Regions from separate parts of the Homo sapiens genome. Here regions 2 and 3 are each linked to region 1. Evidence: fine-mapped expression QTL. A gene starts in region 1. Each other region holds a variant in brackets. All regions are shown on one strand. Distances are between the middles of the regions. Region 1 holds the start of AARS1 (alanyl-tRNA synthetase 1). Region 2 overlaps DDX19A-DT (DDX19A divergent transcript). Region 3 has its middle 31 kb from the start of CLEC18C.

Evidence for each region. PIP is the estimated chance that this variant, and not a neighbour inherited with it, causes the effect.
Region 2: its variant is fine-mapped to the expression of AARS1 in whole blood (INTERVAL, PIP 0.98).
Region 3: its variant is fine-mapped to the expression of AARS1 in cerebellum (GTEx, PIP 0.98).

Annotation. Positions count from the first base shown.
Region 1 is chr16:70,287,987-70,290,742 of GRCh38, forward strand. AARS1 (alanyl-tRNA synthetase 1) reads right to left here and starts at 1,520. Exons shown (of 21, transcript NM_001605.3): 1 at 1,435-1,520. It also overlaps a transcript of DDX19B not described here. RefSeq lists a silencer at 736-865.
Region 2 is chr16:70,337,299-70,340,054 of GRCh38, forward strand. All of the region lies in intron 2 of DDX19A-DT (DDX19A divergent transcript), which reads right to left. Among named protein-coding and RNA genes, the nearest start is that of DDX19A-DT, 8.1 kb to the right of the region's middle. The variant C/T (reference allele first, on the strand shown) is at 1,138.
Region 3 is chr16:70,203,207-70,205,962 of GRCh38, forward strand. No RefSeq gene overlaps it. Among named protein-coding and RNA genes, the nearest start is that of CLEC18C, 31 kb to the left of the region's middle. RefSeq lists a silencer at 1,006-1,171. The variant G/A (reference allele first, on the strand shown) is at 1,651.

The sequences.
Region 1 (2,756 bases):
CCTCCTGACCTCAGGCGATCTGCCCGCCTCGGCCTCCCAAAGTGCTGGGATTACAGGGGTGAGCTACCGCGCCCGGCCAAGACACTTATTTAAGACAGCCTTCCCCTTCTTCTTTTTTTTTTTTTTTTTTTTTTGAGACGGAGTCTCGCTCTGTTGCGCAGGCTGGAGTGCAGTGGCGCGATCTCAGCTCACTGCAAGCTCCGCCTCCCGGGTTCACGCCATTCTCCTGCCTCAGCCTCCCGAGTAGCTGGGACTACTGGGACTACGGGCGCCAGTCACCACGCCCGGCTATTTTTGTATATTTGGTAGAGATGGGGTTTCACCGTGTTAGCCAGGATGGTCTCAATCTCCTGACCTCGTGATCTGCCCACCTCGGCCTCCCCAAGTGCTGGGATTACAGGCGTGAGCCACCGCGCCCGGCCGCCTTCCCCTTCTTGATAAGGCTCCCCCTCTTTTACTGTCTCACAGCCTCAAGTGTTTCCCTTCATAATTTCCATACGCGCTTCATGGATTGTTTAATGTGCGCCTCCCCCATCAGGCTGTCAGTTCCATCCCAGCAGCAACGACTGTTCTGGGCTCTTTTTTTTTTTTTTTTTTTGAAACGGAGTCTCCCTCTGTCACCCAGGCTGGAGTGCAATGGTGTGATCTCAGCTCACTGCAACCTCCGCCTGCCGGGTTCAAGCGATTCTCATGCCTCAGCCTCCGGAGTGGCTGAGAGTACAGGCGCGCGCCGCCACGCTCGGCTAATTTTTGTATTTTTAGTAAAGACGGGGTTTCACCATGTTGGCCAGGCTAGTCTCGAACCCCTGACCTCAGGTGATCCGCCCGCCTCGACCTCCCAAAGCGCTGGGATTACAGGCGTGAGCCTCCGCGCCTGGCCCTGGGCTATTACAGCACATCCTCAGCATCTAGTACAGTGGCTGCTAAATACGTATTTCGTGATCAGGTATACTAATCCTTTAACACCAAGTTCGGAATTAACTCACATGCTTCAAAGCACACCGAGAAATACAAACTGTTTTACAGAACAGCTTAAGATGACGGTCTCGGTGCGCCTGGACCGGCATCAGCTGTTTAGTTAATTTTAAGAAATCAAGGAATGGCTGGCTTACAGCAGGATTGCACCCAGCTGGCCCATCCTTCCTCCCGTGCCCCCACCCGCCCCTAGGGGATTAAAACCAAGGGAGCTAAAACCCCAGGTTGGCAACCGTGAGGTATTGGTGCTCAGCAAATCCACCCGAGGCCGCGACACTCGCAGCGCTCCCGGGGGCGAACGCAAGGCCACACTGTCCAGCTCCCGCTCCAGCCCAGACTGGGCTTCTCCAGGCCACGCGGGGCCTGATCCTGGGGCCCACTGCGGCTGCGGAGCTTTCCCCCCAGTCTGCGGGCCCAGCCGCTCTCCTAGCACCGCAGAGCTCTCCGAGGGCGGCCTACCTCTCCTAGGGTCGCCGTCCCCAGCTCCTCCCTCAGAGTCCCCCGCCAAGGGCCCGCTGCACCTATTCCCGCAGACGCGCAGCTGTACCGGCCTCAGACCACGACCTACCACAACCCGCCACGCTCCGTCCAATCAGAGCGCGCCGACGGAAAGTGCCCCGCCGCGCCTTACCTCATGAGATATTATTGGTCAACCAACATGCCAGTCAAACTGAGGACGAATCCGTTCATTAGTGGATTCCTGGGAAGGCGGCTCTAACTTGGCTGATGCAACTGCGAGAAAAGGTGGGATGGGGTGCGTCACATGATCGAGTTAGACCCCCCCCCGCCCCCCCCGCCCCCCCCCGCCCCCGGCTCCCGGAGGTCGACATTTTGGTTTCCATAGGCAAAGTCCTAACACCACAATTGACATAGTTAAAAAGGGGAGACGGTAACGTGTTTGGTAGAGGTTACATATCTTGCTATAGTTGTTTATTTTAGTTGCTGAGTGATACACAGCCCTCAAAGAGTCTGACATTGTGCCCATGGTTACACTTGTCCGGGGGAGACCTTGAATTTGGTGTGGAAGAAATAACATCAGTAGTTCAGGTACGATTGGATCAGCATCTGGTCCTCGATTTGCCTTTGGAAAAAAAAAAGTTAATATTTATAGGCCTGGGGGAGGAGGGTGAATATATATATATACATATACATATATACATGCCAGGTGCGGTGGCTCACGCCTATAATTGCAACACTTTGGGAGGCCAAGGTGGGAAGATCACCTGAACCCAGGAGTTGGAGACCAGCCTGGTCAACATAACTAGACCCTGTCTCTACGAAAAATTTTTTAAAAGGCCGGGCGCGGTGGCCCACACCTGTAATCCTAGCACTTTGGGAGGCTGAGGCCAACGGATGACGAGGTCAGGAGACCGAGAGCATCCTGGCCAACATGGTGAAACCCCGTCTCTACTAAAAACACAAAATTAGCCGGGCGCGCATCTGTAGTCCCAGCCACTCGGGAGGCTGAGGCAAGGGAATCCCTTGACCTCGGGAGGCGGAAGTTGCGGTGAGCCGAGATGGCGCCACTGCACTCCAGCCTGGCTACGGAGCAAGACTCCGTCTCAAAAAAAAAAATAAAAAATAAAAATTAGCCAGGCATAGTGGCGCATGCTTGTAGTCCCAGCTACTTGGGAGGTTGAAGTGGGAGGATCACTTGAGCCTAGGAAGTTGAGGCTGCAGTGAGCCCTGATCGTGACACTGCATTCCTTGGGCGACAGAGCGAGGCCCTGTCTGAAAAATATGTATGTATTTATACGTGAGGCATTGCATCAAACATTTCA
Region 2 (2,756 bases), 49 kb after region 1:
GCGACAGAGTGAGACTCCGTCTCAAAAAAAAAAAAAGAAAAAAGAAATGATAAACTGCTCTAGAACAGAGAAACTTGGGAAAAGGAATGTTTGGCCCAATGGAAAATTCTGGATATATTCATTATCTATAAATAATGCATTTTATTATTTTTCTTGAGTGTCATTCATTGGCTGTATGCATAAGAACTAATTGTTGATATATTCTTTTAATTGAAGATTAACCTGAATTGAGGATTAACATGAAGATTAATTAATAATAATTCAGGTTAATTGAACTTTAATTATGAAGTTTTCATATTACCAAGAAATCATTAATGAGTATAAGAAGGAAAGAGCTGGGTGCAGAGTGTCACGCCTATAATCCCAGCTACTTGGGAGGCTGAGGCAGGAGGATCACTGGAAGCCAGGAGTTCCAGATCATTCTGGGCAAACAGCGATATCTTGTTTCTTAAAAAGTTTAAAAAAGAAAATTAAGCCAGGCACAGTGGCTCACTCCTGTAATCCCAGCACTTTGAGAGGCTAGGGCAGATGGACTGCTCGAGGCCAAGGGTTTGAGAACAGCCTGGGCAACATAGTGAGACCCCATCTATAAAAAATAAAAAATTATAAAAAAATTAGCCAAGTATGCTGACGCATGCCTATAGTCCCAGCTACCCAGGAGACTGAGGTGGGAGGATCGCCTGAGCCTGGGGGGTTGAGGCTGCAGTGAGACATGATCCATGCCACTGCACTCCAACCTGGGCAACAGAGCAAGACCCCATCTCCTGAAAAAGAAGGTAGGAGAAACAGCAGCATGTTTTTGATTGCTGGTATTTGGGTATTTTTGTTTTAACAAGACTAATGTTGTAAAGTTTAACATTCTGTGCATTGGGATTGCCCATGGCTGAGCTCTACAGTCATTCTGAACCGGCGTGGTGGAGGTGCTCATGGTCATACTGGTTGAAGTTTTCTTGAAATATCTCAAGTTTGGTGTCAAGCACTTTATATTTTTCTTGTTGTTGAGATGGAGTCTTGCTCTGTTGCCCAGGCTGTAGTGCAGTGGCGCCATCTCAGCTCTCTGCAACCTCTGCCTCCCAGGCTCAAGCAATTCTTGTGCCTCAGCCTCCTGAGTTACTGGACCACAGGTGCCACCATGCC[C/T]GGGTAATTTTTGTATTTTTAGTAGAGATGGGGTTTCACCATGTTGGCCAAGGTCTTGAACTTCTGACCTCAGGTGATCCGCCTGCCGTGTATAGGCGTGAGCCACCATACACGGCTAATTTTTGTATTTTTAGTAGGGACGGGGTTTCACCATGTTGGCCAGACCGGTCTCGAACTCCTGGCCTCAAGCGAGCAACTCACCTCGGCCTCCCAAAGTGCTGGGATTACAAGTGTGAGCCACCATGCCTGGCCAGGTTTGTTAATTTCTATAGCAAGTAGGATTATGCCAGAGGAACAAATTAAATATTTTATTCATTTGATTTTTTTTTAACTTTCCCTACCTTCGAAAAACTCTGACTTTATATTTAACATCAATGGAAGGGACAACTTCAGAAAAAGGTGCAGTACCTCTAGTCTCATGGACCGTTCTGCTTAACTCCCCCACACTTCACTGACTATTTCAAGACTTTCACTCACCTCATAATTCCAACCCTATCATCCCCCTCAGGTGTCAGCAAATAAGCTCCTTACTCTAAGAAAATGGCTAACATACAGAAACTCCCTCAACCTTCTGCCACCAGAACTTCCTCCATGAGCACCGGTCCTTCCCTCTCCCTCCTGTTCCAATGAGACATGTATCCCTGTTATCTAAATTTCTCAGCTGAGTGAAATTACTCACACCTAATCTCAGCAACCTCGGGAGGCCAAGGCAGGAGGATCCCTTGAGCCCAGGAGTCTGACACCAGCCTGGGCGACACAGGGAGACCTCATCTTTACAAAAAAAAATTAAAAATTAGCCAGGCATGGTGGCTCATGCCTGTAGTCCCAGCTACTTTGGAGGCTGAGGCAGGAGGATCACTTGATCCCAGGAGTTTGAGGCTGCAGTAAGCCATGACTGCACCATTGCACTCCAGCTTGGGTAACAAAATGAGACCCTGCCTTAAAAAAAAAAAAAAAATATATATATATATATATATATATATATATATATGTAAATATGTACATTTTTCTGCCAATCCACCAACTTCCCTCTCCTGGCTTTTAAGAACTTGCTCTGTCAACTATCCCCTTATATTTGCTACCTCTCCCACCCCATCAGCTCTTTCTCATTGATATTTTAACATGTTCATACTTGACCGCTCTTTACAATTCAACCCTCTATTCCTCATCTTTCAGCCTGTCTCCTAATGGCAGAAAGTCTTGTAAGGTTGCTTGTATGCAGAGTCTCATTCCTCATCCCTCTGCAGTCTTGACTTTTGCTCCATCACTCCCCTGAAATAGCCTTCATGAAAGACACTGATGACTTACAGGTCCGAAATCTGAAAACCACTTTTTTTTTAGATGGGGGGGGTCTCACTTTGTTGCCCAGGCTGGAGTGCAGTGGCATAGTCACAGCTTACTGCAGCCTTGAACTCCAAGCTCAAGTGATCCTCCTGCCTCAGCCTCCCTAGTAGCTGTGGCTACAGATGCATGCAACCACACTCAGCTTAAAAGCTACATTTTAATCCCTGTTATATTTGCCTTCTCAGCAGCATTTAACTCTATCAACAGTCTCTTTCTCTGGCCACTCTTCTGGGGAGGAAAGTGACGCACACTTTGCTTCCTGGTCTTCTCTCTAC
Region 3 (2,756 bases), 85 kb before region 1:
GCTGAGGCTGCAGTGAGCTGTGATCGAGCCACTGCACTCCAGCCTGGGTGACAGAGCAAAACCCAGTCTCAAAAAATAATAATAATATTTTACATAACCAACCACTTCTAAAGACTAAAAAAAAACCCTACAATTAAAAACCTCAGGTCCCTCAGGCAATCATACCAGATATTGAAACAAAGCAATAACATAAGGACTGCAGTATTTATTTTATTTTTATATTATTTATTTATTCTTTGTTAGTTTGTTTTTGGAGTGTGGGTTTTGTTTTGTTTTTTGATTTTTTTCTTTTGTTCCACCCACAGATTTCTTCTTATTGCCCAGGCTTGAGTGCAATGACCTGTTCTCAGCTTACTCAACCTCTGCCTCTTGGGTTTCAGTCATTTTTCTGCCTCGGCCTCCTGAGTAGCTAAGGGAGGAGTCTTGAGATTATCATCCACGGAGGGTGGAAGAGGAGAGGGTGGAAGGGGAATAAGAAGACACTCCAGTGAAGCACTTGCCTTGCGTGCAAAAATGTAAGGGGGCCTCTCCCTCTCCCTCTCCGTCTCCCTCTCCCTCTCCCTCTCCGTCTCCCTCTCCCTCTCCCTCTCCCTCTCCCTCTCCCTCTCCCTCTCCCTCTCCCTCTCCCTCTCCGTCTCCCTCTCCCTCTCCCTCTCCCTCTCCCTCTCCCTCTCACTCTCCCTCTCACTCTCCCCACGGTCTCCCTCTCATGCGGAGCCGAAGCTGGACTGTACTGCTGCCATCTCGGCTCACTGCAACCTCCGTGCCTGATTCTCCTGCCTCAGCCTGCCGAGTGCCTGCGATTGCAGGCACGCGCCGCCACACCTGACTGGTCTTGGTGGAGACGGGGTTTCGCTGTGTTGGCCGGGCCGGTCTCCAGCCCCTAACCGCGAGTGATCCGCCAGCCTTGGCCTCCCGAGGTGCCAGGATTGCAGACGGAGTCTCGTTCACTCAGTGCTCAATGGTGCCCAGACTGGAGTGCAGTGGCGTGATCGCGGCTCGCTACAACCTACACCTCCCAGCCGCCTGCCTTGGCCTCCCACGGTGCCGAGATTGCAGCCTCTGCCCGGCCGCCACCCCGTCTGGGAAGTGAGGAGCGTCTCTGCCTGGCCGCCCATCGTCTGGGATGTGAGGAGCCTCTCTGCCTGGCTGCCCAGTCTGGAAAGTGAGGAGCGTCTGCGCCCGGCAGCCATCCCATCTAGGAAGTGAGGAGCGCCTCTTCCCAGCCGCCATCACATCTAGGAAGTGAGGAGCGTCTCTGCCCGGCTGCCCATCGTCTGAGATGTGGGGAGCGCCTCTGCCCCGCCGCCCCATCTGGGATGTGAGGAGTGCCTCTGCCCGGCCGAGACCCCGTCTGGGAGGTGAGGAGCGTCTCTGCCCAGCCGCCCCGTCTGAGAAGTGAGGAGACCCTCTGCCTGGCAACCACCCCGTCTGAGAAGTGAGGAGGCCCTCCGCCCGGCAGCTGCCCCGTCTGAGAAGTGAGGAGCCTCTCCGCCCGGCAGCCACCCCATCTGGGAAGTGAGGAGCGTCTCTGCCCGGCAGCCACCCCGTCCGGGAGGGAGGTGGGGGTGGTCAGCCCCTGCCTGGCCAGCTGCCCCATCCGGGAGGGAGGTCGGGGGTCAGCCCCCCGCCCGGCCAGCCGCCCCGTCC[G/A]GGAGGTGAGGGGCACCTCTGCCCGGCCACCCCTACTGGGAAGTGAGGAGCCCCTCAGCCTGGCCAGCCGCCCCGTCCGGGAGGGAGGTGGGGGGGTCAGCCCTCCACCCGGCCAGCTGCCCCGTCTGGGAGGTGAGGGGCGCCTCTGCCCGGCTGCCCCTACTGGGAAGTGAGGAGCCCCTCTGCCCGGCCAGCCGCCCCGTCCGGGAGGGAGGTGGGGGGGTCAGCCCTCCGCCCGGCCAGCTGCCCCGTCTGGGAGGTGAGGGGCGCCTCTGCCCGGCTGCCCCTACTGGGAAGTGAGGAGCCCCTTTGCCCGGCCAGCTGCCCAGTCTGGGAGGGAGGTGGGGGGGTCAGCCCCCTGCCCGGCCAGCTGCCCCGTCTGGGAGGTGAGGGGTGCCTCTGCCCGGCCGCCCCTATTGGGAAGTGAGGAGCCCCTCTGCCCGGCCAGCCGCCCCGTCCAGGAGGGAGGTGGGGGGGGTCAGCCCCCCCCGCCCGGCCAGCCGCCCCGTCCGGGAGGTGAGGGGTGCCTCTGCCCGGCCGCCCCTACTGGGAAGTGAGGAGCCCCCCTGCCTGGCCACCACCCCGTCTGGGAGGTGTGCCCAACAGCTCATTGAGAACGGGCCAGGATGACAATGGCGGCTTTGTGGAATAGAAAGGCGGGAAAGGTGGGGAAAAGATTGAGAAATCGGATGGTTGCCGTGTCTGTGTAGAAAGAAGTAGACATGGGAGACTTTTCATTTTGTTCTGCACTAAGAAAAATTCTTCTGCCTTGGGATCCTGTTGATCTGTGACCTTACCCCCAACCCTGTGCTCTCTGAAACATGTGCTGTGTCCACTCAGGGTTAAATGGATTAAGGGCGGTGCAAGATGTGCTTTGTTAAACAGATGCTTGAAGGCAGCATGCTCGTTAAGAGTCATCACCAATCCCTAATCTCAAGTAATCAGGGACACAAACACTGCGGAAGGCCGCAGGGTCCTCTGCCTAGGAAAACCAGAGACCTTTGTTCACTTGTTTATCTGCTGACCTTCCCTCCACTATTGTCCCATGACCCTGCCAAATCCCCCTCTGTGAGAAACACCCAAGAATTATCAATAAAAAGAAAATT